Regions from separate parts of the Homo sapiens genome. Here region 2 is linked to region 1. Evidence: fine-mapped expression QTL. A gene starts in region 1. The other region holds a variant in brackets. All regions are shown on one strand. Distances are from middle to middle.

What was found.
Region 2: its variant is fine-mapped to the expression of HS3ST2 in iPS cells (HipSci, PIP 0.95).

What each region holds. Positions count from the first base shown.
Region 1 is chr16:22,809,633-22,818,869 of GRCh38, reverse strand. HS3ST2 (heparan sulfate-glucosamine 3-sulfotransferase 2) reads right to left here and starts at 4,708. Exons shown (of 2, transcript NM_006043.2): 1 at 3,775-4,708. The coding sequence starts at 4,259. It overlaps LOC107984851 (collagen alpha-1(XVI) chain), which reads left to right and starts at 4,011. Exons shown (of 4, transcript XR_001752349.2): 1 at 4,011-4,163; 2 at 5,606-5,883; 3 at 6,469-6,587; 4 at 8,233-9,237.
Region 2 is chr16:22,758,628-22,767,864 of GRCh38, reverse strand. No RefSeq gene overlaps it. Among named protein-coding and RNA genes, the nearest start is that of HS3ST2, 51 kb to the left of the region's middle. The variant G/A (reference allele first, on the strand shown) is at 4,011.

The DNA.
Region 1 (9,237 bases):
GAAGGGAGGGAGGGAGGGAGGGAGGAAGGAAGGAGGGAAGGAAGGAAGGAAGGAAGGAAGGAAGGAAGGGAGGGAGGGAGGGAAGGAAGGAAGGAGGGAAGGAAGGAATGAAGGAAGGAAGGAAGGAAGGGAAGGAGGGAGGGAGGGAAGGAAGGAAGGAGGGAAGGAAGGAAGGCAGGCAAGGAGGGAGGGAGGAAGGAAGGAAGGAAGGAAAAGGAGAAGGGAAAGGGGAGAGAGGGAAGGAGGAAGGGAAGGGAAGGAATAAAGAGGAAAGTATGGAACTATCTTTATAGCAATTGATTAATTCCTCAGCCCGATTTAGTAACAGCAGCAGCATCAGAAACTAATATTTTTAATACTAACAGAACTAATAGTGATAACAGGAGTGTTGTAGTAATTAGTAGCAATAACAGTAGTAACATTACTGCCTTGTCTTTATATATCATAGAATTTTCCAGGGCAATTTCATGTACAGTTTTGCATTTATTCTTCACAACACGTTTCTAGGATAGTTACTACAGGTCCCATTCCATGATGAGGAAGCTGAGACTTGGGAGAATCACCTTTCTTCAAATCATACAGCACCTAGGTGACCACCTCTGGTCTTCTGACTGTGGTTCCCTGTCCTGGTTCCCTCATCAGCCTGGTGTTGCTTTGCCCACCTGTCCAAGCAGCTAGGAGATACCACCCTGCAGCTCTTACCTCGGGGAGGAAATGTGGGTGGGGGAGAACCCAGGCCAGACACATAGTTGAGGTAAGCATCAGAGATGGCATGGCAGAAAGACAGCAAATTGGAGAGAACCCACTGCAGAAGGCTGGGCTCTCTGGTAGTGGCCTGAACGGGAGTGGTTCCCAAGAAGGATCAGGCTAAGGACAAGAAGGTGCAGACTCTGTCTCCTGGTCTCTCCAAATGATGGTGTCTTTCTGGCTATATCACTCGGCCTTCAGCTTTATCTCCATTTACCCACAGAAAGAAGCCCCTCCTTTGGGTTAAGGGTAAAGCTTTTGATTTTTCCACTATCTGGATTTCAGCCTCCTGATCAGGAAGTTATCACCAGGGGCTTTGATGTGGGCAGATCATACTAAGATCCACACTGCCTGCAACTCTGCACCTCCCCCTTTGGAAAGCACAGTCCACTCCAATGGGTGCAAGGGTTCTTTGGCTATGTCTGCCCAGTGGACCCTGGCTTTATGATGGCAAGCTGTGAACTGACAAGGCAGTGGACAGAGAGCGGAACATCCTGTCACCCACCGTACCTAGCTCATGGGATTCAGGAAGAAAGTAAGAACATGGGTTTTAAAAGATTCCAGAAATCCCCATGATTTCTGCAGTTAATGTGTATGACTTGGTCATAATAAAAAGAAATGTACAAAAATGTTCTTTACATACAGAAAGATGTTCTGGAGGTTATGGAAACAGCATCTAAGTGGGGTAGTATTACCCTGCACAGAAATGGCAATCCACAAGCTAAACACTTGACTCTAGGGGTGTGGATTTGTAACTGAAAGAAGCACAAACCACACAGCCTTTTCCTGACACTGGAGCCTCCCAGCCTTCCTGGTCAAGCAATGGGGAGAGGGCAATTACGACCAGACCTCTAGGATAGTCTTTTAGAAATATAAAGTGGGGAAAGGTGGTAGAGGGGGAGAGAAGAGAGAAGCAGAGCTGTCAGCATGCTTGATGTTAAATAAAACCTACCAAGACTCAGCTGAGAATTTTAGCAGAATCCAAATGTGCTAAAAAAAAATAAATAAATAAAAAATAAGACATGGCTTCCCTCTCTAAGGTTCACAGCTAAGCTTGCTTAGAATCACACATGCCAAGGTTAAAAATAAAAAGCAGCCATCCCTGAATGACATGGGCTCCAGGATGGAAGCCTGAGGTATGCTGTTTAGTGGTGGAAGGAAGAGAGGGGAGGGAGGAGAGTCTGGGTTCAGGGCATAGGTATTTATTGGAGGGCACACTATCTGAAAGCCAGATGCTCAGAATTTTGCTGTTTTGCACTTAAAAGGCACTTCGCATTGGCAAAAGGTGTCATAATGATCTTCAGATTTTCCATCGAGGAAATGCTGGCCTGCATTCGAATGTGGTCATGGCTGACCCACTCTGGGCTCTGCTGTTCAATGTGTTTGCCTCCTCCATCCCGGGATCTGACTCAGACAGTGTCCACATGCACCTAGACGGGATGCCCATGAGTCACAGCTTGGAAAGCACAGTGGGCTATTGGCATTGGCATGAAGCCAGATCTGCCACTCTGTGCCACCCTACCCTATTAACCAGACATAATGGTGCTGGGGCCACCCACAGGCTAGCTAGCCCCTGGTTGGCTGCAATGGGGACAGACTATGTGTCTGCCTGCTAAGGATGATGCATGACCCACTCGTCCCCACAACTACAACCATTGCGAGCCAGGAGTAACCTGCAAAGGTGCTAAATCAGGCCTGCGGTCCCCCTACTTTTGGTAAATCCAGGGCCCTCTATTATAAGCCCAGTGGGGTCCTCTTTCTAACAAAGTTGTCCCTTGTCCAATATGCATATGACCTCTACTGCCTAAAGCTGTAGATAAAAACAGCAGATTTAGCCTCAGCTACTCTGTCAGCTACCATGTTACCCCTCCCCAACGTCATTACTATGCAGATGTTTCTAGAAAGTCTTCAAAGGGTCAGGTGAATTGTGAGAATTCTGTGACCTATGTGTTAACAGGGAGCCGGGACATTACACCACCCACATGTGGGCCAGTCCTACACTTCAGCACCATACAGGGCTAGGGAGGCAGAAAGGCATTGAGGCGTGGACGCTGCCACCTCACAGAAGCTTTGGTCTGTGCCTTGACTCCCCCAGTGGGGATAATTCTCCTCCCTGGCATGCATGGGAAGCATAGACAGTCTATGCATGACTGGCTGCCCCTAGCACCCTTGCTAGCCTTCACCCGCAGGGCCCACCTTCAAATTCCACATTTTGGCTGCTGGTTTAGAAGCATCACTTAAAGTGAAGTGCCTTTTTTACACCTTTAAGGCACTTCAGAAAAGCCTTGGAAGGTATACAGGGCAAGGGCTGTTTTCCTGCCCATTGGGATGGATGAGAAAATAGAGGCTGATAGAGTTTAAGAAACTTGCTCAAGCTTAAGTGACAGACCCAAGACTCGAATCCAGGGCTCTTTCCACTACTCAAAGACCACCTACCAGGGCCAGAGCTACTGGGGGTCTCAGCCCCAGTACAGCAGCAAATACCTGGGTTTGAGATTGAGACTCCCTAAGGCATCTTTCTTACTGGAGACCTCTGGCGATGCACTGTCATTTGGCCTGAACTCTGGGGACCTTTCCCAAACAGAGCCTTGCTGCAAGGGGTCTCTGAACTGCCTTATCTTTCTCAGGGTCCTTCAGGGGCTGGGTACCAGCAAAGACCTACAGAGGGTTAGGATGGTGCCGTGTTCAGGCAGCACAGGTCCTCGCCTGTCCCTTCCTTGGGCACCCTAAGGGCTGGTCACAGAGGGAGTTAGCCCTTTAGCTGGCACTTAGGTTTGACTGGAGATAATCCTTTTCCAACGACTCCAGTGACGAGGGAACGCCCTTTGCAGTTCCAGAAACTGCCCGTCTAGATTATCACTGGGAAGTTCTGGGTAAATTCTGCTATAGCCCCCCATGGCCCTGTGTGTCAGCCTGAACCCATACAATGAGTTGGGTTAAAAGAAAGAGAAAACACAAGAGACGGATGGCTCTCCCAATGGAAGCGATCAGAGACCCGGCGCACGGAGCGGAGCTCCTGGTCCTTACCTGTACCAATCCAGCCCGCGGCCGTAGTTCCTGTCAAAGAAGTGGGGTTCCGTGCCCAAGGCCCGCACGTCCGGGTGTACTCGGATAAACTCCAGCACGGCCCGGGTGCCCCCCTTCTTCACGCCCACAATGAGGGCTTGGGGCAACCGCTTGGTACCCAGCTTGGGTGAGCCGGAGTGGTTGGAACCGGAGAGGCGAGGGGCGGGCACGGCGGCGGCGGGCGCGCTGGGAGCGCTGGGCTCGCTGGGCGTCGGCCCGGAGGGATCACAGGGGCGGGACTTCTGGAGAAGTTTCTGGCCGCCCGCGCTGGGGCCGCGGAGGCAGCGAGGCGCGCCGAGGAGGCGGCTCCGACCCAGGTCGTCGCAGCAGCACAGGAAGCTGTAACACAGGTAAGTGCAGGAGAGCGAGAGCGTGAAGGCGAAGAGCAGCCTGCGCGCCCTCCGCGGCTGAGGTGGCCCCGCGCGGCCCAGGACCCTATAGGCCATGGCTCCATGGGCCCGCGCCGGGGGTCATGGTTTCCGAGGGGGCACCGGCGGCTGAGCTGCTGTGGCCCTGCGGTCGCCTAGAGGGCTCGCGTGGCGCTGCCACGGCCACGCGGGTCGGGCGTTGGGGGCGCCGTCTTCTCCGGGGGCTGCTGACCAGGGTGCGCACAGTGCCAGGGGGTCCCGGGGGCAGCGGCTCCTCGGGGAACAGGCGGTTGCATTTCCAGCATCTCCCGGTCCTAGGCGATGGGGCTCCGGGCAGCCGGGCGGCTCGGGCGCTCCCAGGCTCTTACGTGCGCCGGGTTCGGAGCGCGCCCAGCGCCCGAAGCCCCATTCCTGATCCTCGGAGCGCCGCTCACGAAACGCTCGGCGGCGGCGCGGCTGTGCGGGCTGGCGGGTGGACCGGACGGTGGCGCTGGCGCCGGCCGCGATCTGGCTCTTCGGGAAATGCCGAGCGGAGCGCGCTGCCGGCTCTATTTAAGGAGTGGCCTGACGTCAGCCGCGCGGGTCCCCCGAGCCCGCGCCGCGCCCAGGGACCTGGCCCGCCCCCTGCGCCCCCACTCTCTTACCCCTCCCAGAAACACAGCACGCGGGCCCTCCCCATGCAGGCCACTCCCTACGGAGCCCCAGGCCAGCTTTGGGGCGGTGAAACGAAGGTGTCAAGGCATAGTACTCCTCCGGGAGGCTGGACACCCCCACCACGCTGGCCTCTCGACATCCAGGGACACGAATCCAGGTCGAGATCGCGCCGACATGCAGACCAGACAGACCCAGACGCAGACGCAGGCACCCTGCCCTGATGCGCGGTCCCACCACCCTGACCCGCACACGCACGCACAGGCACAGAAGCACACGCGCCCTAGCCCGGACACACCCCCACACCCACGCGGGGGTGGGGAGGAGAAGTCCCCTAACCTGGGCCCAGATACACCGACAAGGACACTCCCCCCGCTCTCGACATCTCGCCAAATGGACACACACAGCCCGGAATCGGACACCGAGCGCACGCACGCCCTGGACTGGGACACGCGCTGTAGACGGGATGGGTGGAGGAGCCGAGCGTGAGTGAGATTCCGTGACTATTCACCCAGCTTCTTAGCCCCCAGCGCGCTGACTCACACCCCGGCGGCTCGCTCTGTCTCGCACCTATGAGGCACGCGCGCACCCCAACCCATTGTCACCCCACCTCTCCCCGGGCCTGCCGGAGAGCGAGCCCCGGAGCGGCAGACTCCGCGTCAGGAGGGTTCCTCTCTTAGCAGCCGCCGCCTAGCGGTAGACTGCTCCCCGGGGAGCTGTCCAGGGTACCAGAGGGTCGCCGAGGGCTGAGTGAGGAGGGCTTCTTCACACAGAGACACTAGGAGGAGGAAACAGAGTACAAGGAGAACGTATCCAGGAGCAATTCCACTTCGAATGATTCCTAAGTGAATGCCTACAGGACAGTTCTCGGTGACCATGTCCAGAACAGGCATAAGTGACGATCCCCAGTACTTCCCTGAGGGACCACACTGGTACCTTGGATCAGAACCCTGCATCAGAACAGGCCTAAATGGCCATGGCTAAGAACACGGCTGAGTTGTCCTTCAACAGCAATGCCAATGCCAATTCACCATGTCCGAGTGTTCACAAGGTGAGTGCCCTCCACCACCACCCAGCCATAGAATGTCTAGATGACCACCATGACCCCCACCCTGATCAGGGTATAACTGACTTCCTTCCTCAGGCTGTAAACTGATCATTAGGTTCTGTGGATCTTAGCCCAAACCAGAAAATATTTTGTCCCCAAACTAGTCCCATCCCTAGAAACCTTAAACCAATTCTACGGCAGATAATAATAATAGCTGCCAACTTTGTATCAAGCACCTGGCATGGGTTAACTGATTAAATATTCACAACCTATGAAGTTGTTACCATTACCCTGGCATCACTTTGCTGTCTTAATTCTAATAGTAGCTAGCATTTATTGAGTGCTTGTTTTATGGGAGTTATGCGCTAATCACTTGACATGCACTACCTCATTTATCTTTGGAGATAGGTATTATTGTAATTTCTAATCTACAGGCAGTGATAAGAAGATTTAACAAACATATACACAGTAACTGGCAGAGCTGGGATTAAACCCGGGCAGTCTTGACTCCAAGATTCAAGCTCTTAGTTACAGCACTTTGCAGCTTCCTAACTTCCTTTGACCATTATTCATATAATTCCATCCTAGGCTCCTCTCCTGGATGTAAGCTAATTTGTCTATGTCTCTTCTAAAATCTCACACCTGGGACTGCGCGAGGAATTTCAGATATGGATTGAAAAGTTCAACAGGACTCTCACCTCTCTTTTGTAAGTTCTATTTCTAGTAATGCCACCTAAGACTCCATTATCTTTTTCTTGTGGCTATATCACACTGCTGACATCTCAAACTTGCAGCCAAGTAACATCTCTAAATGTTTCTTACAAGTGCTGCTGATTAAGGCACAGCTACCCCATACTGTGCTTGTACAGTGGGCCTTTTTGGACCCAATGTGTAGGTCCTTATAGATTTGACTTGATTGCATTTCATCTTGTCTCATCAGTTCGCTGCCCTAGTTTTTTTTAAATGTCTATTTGAAGTCAAACCACGAGGTAGCTTTCATTTATTCAAAAAGAAAAAGTAGAAAGATTGTATCCCAGCTTTACCCTTTATTCCAGGTGTACTTTGGGCAAGTGGACCCCCTTTAAGCCTCAGGTTCCTCAGCTGTAAAATGGGACGCTATGATTCACCTTAAAAGTCTCTCAAAGTTTAGATGTTGCATGATTCTATGATTCCATTACCCAAAGCATGAACCACTCACTTGGCATCATGTAATTTCCACAGTTGATCACAATTTAATTAATTCCTCATTCTAATTGTTAATAAAAATGTCAAAACAAATATACTTAAAGGAGTTCTTCTTCTTCTTTTGGGTGAGGGGAAGTGTCTCACTCTGTTGACCATGCTGGCATGCAGTAGTGCAATCATAGCTCATGCTGCAGCCTCCACTTCCTGGGCTCAAGGGATCCTCCTGCCTCAGCCTCCTGAGTAGCTAGGACTACAGGCATGTGCCACCACACCTAGCTAGTTTTTTAATTTTTTGTAGAGATGAAGTCTTACTGTGTTGCCCAAGCTGGTCTTGAACTCCTGAGCTCAAGTGATCCTCCTGCCTCAGCTTCCCAAAGTGCTAGAATTACAGACATGAGCCACAATGCCTGGCCTGGAAGGAGCTCTTATATATACTTTGAACAATTATTCACATCATGAACCTGCTATTTTTGTATTCCATTGTTAAAATTACAAGGTTAAATGTGGAGTCATCTGCTGTGATCAGTACTATTTCCCTTAGAAAATAAAACATGAATATAATGATTTCTCATAATTCTGTGCTTGGCTTAATTTTTAAATAATTTTTAACCTTTGAATTCATAAACTGTGATATCCCTGGGTACTCACATATATCAAAACCAGGAAGATTTTCCTCTTCAAATTTCCAATCAGAGTAATGACTGACTTGGATAGAATTTTTTAGGAAGTGAGACATTGGACATACCTGCCCATCTCCTAAACCTTTATCTGTTTACAGTAGCAAACGTGATTCTGCTTTGGGGGTATCAGGTAGGATTATGCTGGGTTGTGTAGTTTGTCAATTAACACCCACTTAAGCAAGGTATATGTTTATTTTTGTAATCACATGAAAGTCCAGATGAAGGTACTTTAGGGCTTGTATGGAAGCTCCAAAGTGTTTGGGACCCAGGCTCCCTCTATCTTGTTACTCTACCATGCATTTCCTCCATTCTAAAGTCACCACATAGTCTACAATGACTTATTCATCTGCAGCCAGAATGTTCACATTCTGGTCATTAGTAAATATGTAAAGACATGCCATATCTGTTTAAGGACATTTCTTGGAAGTTGCCTGTATTATTTCAACTCGTATTCAATTTGACAGCATTTTATCATTTGACTTTCTAGCTTCAAGAGATGCTTCAAAATGCAGTCTTGATTCTGGATGGCTGTATGCCTGGCTAACACTTTGAGATTTTGGTATCAAGAAAGAACTAAAGAATGGTTATGGAGGACAACTAGTAATCCTTGCCATCCTTGGACAAACAGTTTTCCCTCTTTTATTCCCATGTGGTTTGTATGGGTTGAACATAGTTCAAAGACAGGCATATGACCAAGCCTGACATCATCACTTTCTAATTATATTTCAAGAACTGAAAGTAACTCAAATCTTTCTAGTGAGAATAAACCACACAACATTTGTGAAAACTATTGGAAAAGAGAAACTTCTTTTTCTGAGATGATGAATTAATCTAAAATAAGCCTGAAGCTTCCAATGGTCATCTCTGCTATCAAGAGGAGAAACCAACAATAAAGCCAACAAAGAGGAGAGCAGAACTGATGGAGGGAGAATTAGATTCCTGATAATATCCTTTGAACCTCTGAATCTAGCCATGCGGAATGCATGGACCCTGGACTTTATTGCTGCAGTGATTAGCTATCTTTCTGTTAGCACTTGCAACTGAAAGAGTGCTGACCAATACAACAAACAAACAAAAAGAGTTGCTCCCTCCGTTGCAAGGAATAGATACCATTTTAATAAAAAGTGTTGGAGGTGGGGGGGCTTATTTTGAAGGATATGCATGTATCAGGACTGCAACCCTTCCAAATTTGAGACAGTCATAGGATCCAGTTACTTTCTTCAACTTCTCTACTTTTCTTGTATCTTATTTATTTTGCTTCTCATTCTTAACTGCCATTGCTCTTTATTTATGAAACAGTAAGGGTTACTAGAAGTGAAAAAAAGAGATTTGGGATATCTTACACAGGAAAGGAACTTTGGGGTAGCTCACAAAATTAAGAAGAAGGCTGGAGAACTGGGCTCAAATAGAATAGCAACCAAAGAGCACATTACACTCTCTTTCTTTTCTTTTTCTGAGTCCATTTCTCTTTCACATTAGCATTCTCTTGAAT
Region 2 (9,237 bases), 51 kb after region 1:
TGTCTTTATAGTAGAATGATTTATAATCCTTTGGGTATATACCTAGTAATGGGATTGCTGGGTCAAATGGTATTTCTGGTTCTAGATCCTTGAGGAATTGTCACACTGTCTTCCACAATGGTTGAATTAATTTACACTCGCACCAACAGTGTAAAAGGATTCCTATTTCTCCACAGCCTCACCAGAATCTACAAGGAACTTAAACAAATTTACAAGGAAAACAAACAAACAAACAACCCCATCAGAAAATGGGTGAAGGATATGAACAGATACTTCTCAAAATAACTAAGTATGAAGAAAAGGCAGGAACTGTAAAATAAAAAACTAGTAAATTTCACCAAATAAAAATTTTTTAATGTGTTCCAAAACATATATATGATAATATATAATATGTAATATTTTATCTTAAGAGCTAATATATAAAGAACTCTTACAAATCAATAAAATAAAGATCAACCTTCCCAATAGAAAAATGGTCAATGGACATGAAATATAAATTTATAAAAGAAATACAAACTGTTAATAAAAAATTCCACCTCACTCACTAGCAAATAAATGCAAATAAAACAACAAGATAGTATCCCCACCTATTAAATTGGCAAAGGTTAACCAGAAAAATACTAACCAATACTGGTAAATGTGTGGGAAAGTTGACATTCCTATATACTATATTTTTAGAAGTGTAAATATCTTTCCAGTAAGTATTAAAAACCATAATATTACACATATGTTTTGGCCCAACAACAATCATAAATGAGCACAAACATTTGGCTATTAGAATGCTGAATTGAAGCATTATTATTATTATATTAGTTATATTAGCAAAAAATTCTGCAGAAACAAGATAAATACAAAAAGAATATTAGTCACCTGTATTAATCAAACTCTGGTGCCTTCAAACAGCAGAAGATGATCCAGTCATTAAGAATGGAACTAGAGGGGGACAAAAGTGCCTGCAATTGACAATTCAGCCATTCAACTATGTTCATTCACTCAACAACAACTCACTGAGCACATACACAATATTCAGCACTGCTGACATCAAGATGAACAGAATACAATCCCTTCCATCAAGAAACTGCCATTTTATTGTGGGAGACATTTGGTTAATGATACACCAGAGGTATGAACGGAGTGTGGCCGTATTCTCTCCTCCCCCACCAAAAAAAAAAAAAAAGAGTCTATCCTGGCAAGTGATCCAGATTTCGAAGAATCAGTAGCAGCAATTAGCAGTTCTAAACCATGAGTTAATTGTTGAAACTCCAAGACCAAAAGGCATGTGTGTTAGTTATCTATTGTTACATAACAATATTATAATACCACCAACTGAGCAGCTTGAAATAACTCACATTTATTGTCTCACAGTTTCTGACAGTGGTTTGGTGTCTGATCATGGCTTACCTGGGTTCGCTACTTCAGAGTTTCACAAGGCTGCAGTTAAGATGTCAGCCAGCTCTGTGATCTCATCCAATGACTTGACTGGGGAAGAAGCCACTTCCAAGTTCATGTGGTTGTTGGCAGGATTCAGGTCCTTGTGGGCTGTTGGACTGACAGGCTTAGTTTCTTGCTGGCTGTTGGTCCCTCTTAGTTCTCAGCTGTTTGTTGGACAGGAGCCTCTCTCAGATCCTTGCTCATGGGCCTCCACAGCATACTCACTTGCTTCATCAAAGCCAGAAAGAGAGACAGTCTGCTAGCAAGACAGATGCTATGGTCTTCTGTCATATAATCATGAGAGTGTCATCCTGTCACCATGGCCATTATATGGGTTAGAAGGAAGTCACAGGTCCTTCCTATCCTGCAAGGGGTAAGATTCTACAAAGGCACCAGGAGGCAGAGATCATTTGAAACAATCCTAGAGTCTGTTCACAACAGGGTAAAGGAGAGAAACATTAGTTCCCTGAAGCTGAGTCACTGGGGAAGCCAAATCAAAGGTGTGGGTTGGGATGGAGAATTCCCCAAACTGAGGCCGGTGGCATTGTCTTGGCCTCACTGTCAAAAAAATCATCCCCAAATTTGCAAAGTGGTCCATCCCATGAGTTCTTCTAAGCATGAGTATAGTGTATCTGGGGCAGGAAGCTCAGACTCAAATATCCACAAGGGCTGAGCAGGTAACATAATCCATACAGTTCTCCTCTTAAAGGAAAGTTGGAGACTGCAGCAAACTGGGCCACACATGGCCCATCATAAAGGGACTGCTGCCAGGCAGCTCAAGGAGTTTGTTGTCTATGCAGGAATGCAGTCCTATTCCTGCCAGAATTTCTGACTTTACAAAGAAGCTCCTTAAACCACATTTGTCCATGAAATTTCCCAAAATTTTAAATTATTTGTGGGCTAAGGAAAACATATCTGCCAGCCAGATCCAGCTCCCAGGACCTCAGTTTCAGATCCCAACCTAGCAACCTATCCTGAATTTGCAAGGATACAGAGCAAGGCCACTTGCTGAATTTCAAGCTAATATTTTCCACTCTGCTAGCTCCTGGCTGTTACTAACATGTTCTCTTCCCTTTTGAGTTTCTAATTGTGTGAACTCCTCACATTCAAGGCAGACCAGCCTGCTGATTAGTTTTAAATTTCAGGAGCTTTAAAGTCTCCAAATTTGGAGGTAAGCGGACTCTCATTAAGAAGTCATTTGATAAAAATTAATCCCTCCAGGAATATCTTGGACTCAGAAGAAAGCCCCAGCTCTCTCATTAGCTGGTTTTAAGTATCCAGTCCACCTCGGAGGCCCCAATCCTCCCTGGGTTTGACTCTGGGGCTCCAAACAGCTGCCACTGTGTCTGGAGACCAGATGCCAGTGATTCTAAAATCACAGGAAAGGATGCAGCAGAACTTCGAACTCAAAGGCTACAGCAAGCCCCCTGCCCCCTGAGCCCAACTCCTCAGATTTAATCACTTCCCCTTGAGCCTGAGAATGAGGGGACAGATTTTCATCTTACTGAGTAGATTTCAGAGCTTACTTCGCCTAATCCTTGCAGATTTGTCACTGACCTAGCAAAGAGAATAACTAAATGAGTGTTTGGGGGTCACCACGGGGGAGCTCCTGGGAGAAGAAACATCCCTCTGGGCTCATCCTGGACAACGTCCGGAGCCCAAGCCCTAGAGGGCTGCCAGCAGCATGGGTGGTGGTGACGTGCTTCCAGGGGCCTGTGAACCTGTCCAGAACCGGCCTCAACTTTAATCTCTAACTAACCCAGTTATAAAAAGCTTTTATGTTAGTGAGTGGTTGTTTTGGAAGCAAGGTAGCTTTCTTATTTTTTTTCCTAAATGTTTCTATTTTTATTTTTTGAAAAGATAACACATGCACATGGTTTTTTAAAAAATGTAAACAGAACAAAAGGGAAGACCATGAAAAGTAAATTCCCCCATCCCTACTTTTGTATCCCAATTCCCCACCCCAGGGCAATTGCTGTTATAAGTTTCTCCTGAAGAAAGATGGATGTTTTTAAATTTTCTAATCTGGCCTCAAAAATAGCCAAAGGCCAAACACAGCCCACAATAATGTAATTAAAATGAGTGATGGAGCCATACACATGACATGTCACAGGAAGAGAAAGATCACAAACACAAACTCACACTCAGAGAGCACACAAAATCAGTGTGTGTGTGTGCAGAGTGTCTTTGTGTGTAAAGAGAGTGTGTGGGTGTGAAGGATTTGTAGGTATAGTGTGTGTGCACTTGTGCATATACTACTTGTGTGCCAGGGTGTGTGTGTGCGTGTGTGTGTGTTGCCCTCGTCTCTCTGAAAACTTCAGTCAATTCCATAAACATTTATTGTGTGCTGTGTGCCAGGCCCTGTTCCCAGTGCTGTGGGTTATACCAAGATAAATCATATAAGGTCCCTGGCTTTGGGGAGCTTACGATAAGAATAATTCACATTGGATTGGCCCCTTTCCCTTTACAGGGAAATTTTCAGGCGAGTTATGTCATAACTCAGGCTGGCTACAGCCCGAGGCATGCTGGGACTTAAGCAGCCAGGGCTGAGCTGGCAGGAGGGGGAAGCCCTGATGGGG[G/A]ATGGGTACATGGAACCAGCAGCAGAGGCTGGGTCTCCGCAGACTGCTAAGGACCAGGGACTTGGGCCACAGGCGCCACCCCCTTGAGAAGGTTCAGATAGGCACCTGTGTCAAAAAGGCCAGATGCATGCTGCATTGGCCTGGCGATTCTGTTCCTACAGTAGCACTGCTTCATAGCCCAGCTCTGCCACTAATTACAAGTGTGATCCTGGGCAAATCGCTTAACCTCTGTTCATCTCTTCAACAGAGACAGATGATAGTTTCCTCCTCCTAGAGGTCATATGAGGATTAGTGAGGTAAGGCAAGCAAATACATAGCATGGTGTTACTCAGTAAATGCTCAATACAGGGCATCATGGCTGCTGTTATTATATTGCTATTATTCAACAACACAAAACTCTGAATCTCCACAATTTAATACAAGAAGGGGGATCCCCTGGTTTAGAGGGATGCCTGATCAAGGGCCCTTGAATTGAGCCTCTTAAATGTCACTTTCCATTTGAGGACCCTCACTCTGATTCTGGCTCTTGCTGCCTCTCCTGGTCAGCTCCAGCCCCAAAAAAGCATAATGAAAACAGGGCAGAATTTTCAAAAAGTTTTGCTAAATTTTAAGGCAAGTCAGCACACTGCTTACAAAGAATCTAACTGTACCCCATCTTGCCAGCTCACGGTGGCTTTCAGGCCCATCTCTCTCAACATGGAACCCCAAGGAAAGAGGCAGCTTTGCATGAGTCCCTCATTTCCTGGCTCAAGTCCAGTAGGTTCCTAAGCTTTGCAAGTATATACCAAGCATCCTACACAGGTGGAGGGTCGGATAAGTTCCCCCAGAGAAAGCAACTCTGGAGCAAACACCTGAAAAAGGAGTTTGAATATCTGCATGGGAGGTGAGGAGGGCAGAAATGCAGAGGACATTCTAAGCAGGAAGGTGAGCATGGGCAAAGGTCCTGGAGCAGAAAGGCACATGGTGGATTTGAGAGATGGAAGGAAAAAACCATGTGCCTGAAGAGGACAAAATAAGGGGAAAAATAACAAAAGATGAGATTAGAGAGGTAGGCAACTTCCAGATTGCAAAGAATGTTGTGGCCATCTGTGGTGAACACTGCTACCACTCAGGCCCTATTCTAAGGAAGAACCTGTTACTCCAGATGCTAGGCATGTTGTGGTGGCCAGCTGTCCATGGTCAGGACCTTCAGGGATTGTCTCAACTGCAGACGGCTGCCTCATCCATTGTCACACCCTTTATGGGGCAATTCATACCCGGTGGGGCTGTAAAGGCGTAACCATCTTTACTCAACTCAAGAAAACAGTGATGGACCAGTCCAACTCCAGAGCTCCCCATGGGACAAGCTGAGGCTGTCTTTGGGCCCATATCGTGGCTTAACTCTTTCTGCCCATTTGTGTTTCCATCTCCTGCATCCATGAGTGTTTGTCCCAAGGGATTAAGAATGAGCATGCTTCATGCCAAACTCCATCTGTTTTCTGGGGAACCCAACCTATACCACCATGTCCAGAATTTTGGATTTTATTCTAGGAGCCATTGGGGAACTATTGAAGGGCTTATGCAAGGGAGTGACATGATTGGAGTTGCATTGTAGAACACTTAATTGGCTCCTCTGGAGAAAATGGGTTGGAAGATGATGCTTCCAAGTGAGTTGGGTATGGAGGCAGTTCTTCTGGCCGTCTAAGTGTCCTCAACCCATTCTAAGACATGTTCCCTTCCCCAGATAATCCTGGCAAGGTCTTACCCTTTAGGGAACAACTTGTCATTCACCCTATACACCATGTCATGCAACACCACAACCACTGAGGTCATGCATCAGGGGTTACACACTCACAATAATGAGGGCAACATTGGAACTGGAGGGGGATGTGTAAGAAGCTCAATAAAGTCAGACTGAAGGTACAGCCCTAGGAGTTTAATAAGATGCTTTAGCAGTGACTCTCAGCAGTGATAGGTGCACAGAGAGTTTTGGATACCCCTTGCCATCACTTCTCAGGGGTCTTCAGATCACAGCTTCAGATCTTAAGCTTGGAGAGCATGCTTAAGATCATTGCTATGGAGTAATTTCTCCGTGACACAACAAGTCTAAAATTTGTATGAATGCCACAGCTCAATGTTTCTCAAAGTGTGGTCCTTGGGGCAGCATCAAGGAACCTGTTAAATGCAAACTCTTAGGCCCATGTCAACTAACTCAGAAACTCTGGAGCTGGGGCCCAGCAAGTTCTCCAGGTGGCTCTGATGCTTAAGTCTGAGAACCACTTTCTATTAAAACACGATGAAACATTTATATCAATAAGGATCAGTTCTATATGCATGTATTTAAACAGGTGGTCTCTCACCTGAAAAATAGAGTTAGTCATTTAAAAAGGACAGTTACCTGGAGAATGGCTATTTAGTCTTGCTGTGCATCAGAATCAACTATGAAATTGGACTTATTTTCTTTCTTCTTCTTTTTTTTTGGAGACAGGGCCTCACTCTATTGCCCAGACTGGTGTGCAGTGGCTCAATCATAGGCTCGCTGCAGCCTCAACCTCCTGGGCTCAAGCCGTCCTCCCACCTCAGCCTCCCGAGTAGCTGGGACCATAGGTATATGCCGCCATGCCCAGCTAATTTTTAAATTTTTTTTGTAGAGACAGGGGTCTCGCTATGTTGTGCAGGCTGGTCTGAAACTCCTGGCCTAAAGCTATCCTCCCACCTCAGCTTCCCAAAGTTCTGGGATTACAGGTGTCAGCCACCACACCCAGTTGTATTTTTTTAATGCTGATGGTCAATATTTAATGTATACATTCAGCTCAGTCTGTTTTTTAAGAACCACAGATGATTCTGATGTATAACCAGGATTGAAATCCATACTAATTCACAGATAGAATTCTATCTGTACAGTAGAGCAAGGATTTAGTGGTCAGGACTGAGAAGGAGTTTCTAAACCAGTCATCACCAACCCTGACTGCACGTTAGAATCACTGAGGAAGCTTTCAAAAACCCCAAAGCCTGAGCTAAATCCTCAAGACCAATTACATAAGAGCACCCCAGGTGGCCCCCAGGGAGCATCTTGCACTTGGAAACAGGATAGAAGTGGGAGAAGAGGGGAACTCTGACACAGGATTCTGAAATTATAAAAATCTTTTGAAGCTGGGGCTGTGGTTCTTTTTATTTGGTTTTGTCTTCTTATTTATTTATTTTAACTTTTATTTTAAGTTCAGGGTACATGTGCGGGTTTGTTACATAGGTAAACTTGTCTCATCACCAGGTATTAAGCCTAGTACTCATTAATTATTTTTCCTAATCCTTTTCCTTCTCCCACCTTCCACCCTCCAATAGGCCCCAGTGTGTGCTGCTCCCCTCTATGTGTCCATGTGTTCTCACGTGGGAGCTGTGGTTCTTAATCTAGGGGCCTCCCCATCAACTAGGGAGTCTTTTATGTATAATGCATATATTATGTATATATGCATGTGTTATTTATTTATTTTTGAAAGATGCCCAGCTCCCACACCAGACCCAATGAATCAGAATTTTCTGGGATGTGAGCCCTGGGCAGGTTAATTAAAGTCCTCCACAGATTGTTTTTATGCTCACCCTTGGTTAAGAATCTCATTTAGAAAAAGGAAAACACAAGTTTGACCAAAGTTTTAAGAAGAAGAGAGATTCATTAAAATAGATAGGAAACTATATTATAAAGACGTAATAAAACACTGTAGTGATGTGTAGCAAAGGCATACACATTGATGGAACAGAATAAAATTTCCAGAAATTGACATAGATCTATAAAAGTCAATGTAGTATATGGCATTTTTAATCAATCATCATTATGTTGAGACAACATGATACCCATCTGGGAAAAATTTGTTAGAATCTTAGCCCATACCATACCCCAAAATTAATTCTAGTTTTTTTTAAATTTTATGTAAAAATAAACCATAAGGACACTGAAAACATGGGTGAACAATTTTAGAAACTAGGGATGGAGAAGGGTTTTCTAAGCATGACACCAAATGCAGAAAACATAAAGGAAAAGTCTGTCAAACTTGATTATAACACATAAAAAACAGTAACAACTTATGTCAAAAACCATCATAAATAAAACTGAAGGGCAATTGATACACAGCAGAATATATGTTTGCCATTTATGATGATATCCTTAACATCGAAGCAGCTCCTTTAACTCAAAAAGAAACAATGAATACCCAACAAACAAAAGCACACAGGATGTGAAAATGCAATTAATAATAGAAAAATTATAAACTGGCTGGTACATATTAAGTGTATATGTCACATCACTAGAAATCAAAGAAATACAAAATAAAGCAATAATAAAATGTCACCTTTCTCAAATGAAACTTTTTTTTGAAGTGAATTAGAATGAGCCAGTGTTGGCTAGAATATAGGGACAAGGGAGTTATCATTTATGGCAGGCAGGAGTACAAATTCACCCACTGATCTGGCAGTTCCACCATTTCCAAGACTTCACCCTGAGGGAGTGGTGGATGTACACAAAGGTCGTATAATTTTGTATTGTGTACAGGCTCAATAATGATATTCTTCAGAGTGCCTTTACAACTGTGAAAAATAAATAAAGACTCACTGGTAGGAGACGTTAGCTACCTATGTACTGTTTTCCCTTTGAAAAATGACTGAAAGTGAACATAATAAAATATTAATAGTTGTTAACAGCACAGGGTGGGAGTATAGATGTCTATTAAGTTGTTCTTTGCACTTTTCTAGAACTTTAAATTCTTTCCAGATTGTGGTCAAATATGTTGTTATGGGAGAGTAATCACTGGCATGGAAAATAGTAAAAATATATTTTCAGTGAAAATAAATACAGATTTAAATACAGATTTATTGAGTATATTCTAAATTTTATTTTAAAAACATGGATGCAAAGCAAAAACTTGGTGTGCCAAGTTATTTAGGGGCTGGATAGATACATAATTTTTATTTTCTTCTTTGCGCTTTTCTGTTTTCTGTATTGAGCATGTATTACTTTTGAAATACACTGAAATCATACCTAAACATACTTAGAAGGCATGTCTAATTCCTATGCATCATGATTCTGAACATAAATGAAACTTCTTTTTAAAGGTACCTGCGAAGAGCCAGTTGATGTCACCTTAGAGGTCACATTGAACTTCTCAATGTGAAATATAGGGACAAAGGGAGCAGAATTCCAATTTCTTAAGATTCCTTCCAGCAAAGTTCTGATGTTATCCATTCAATAAGTATTCAC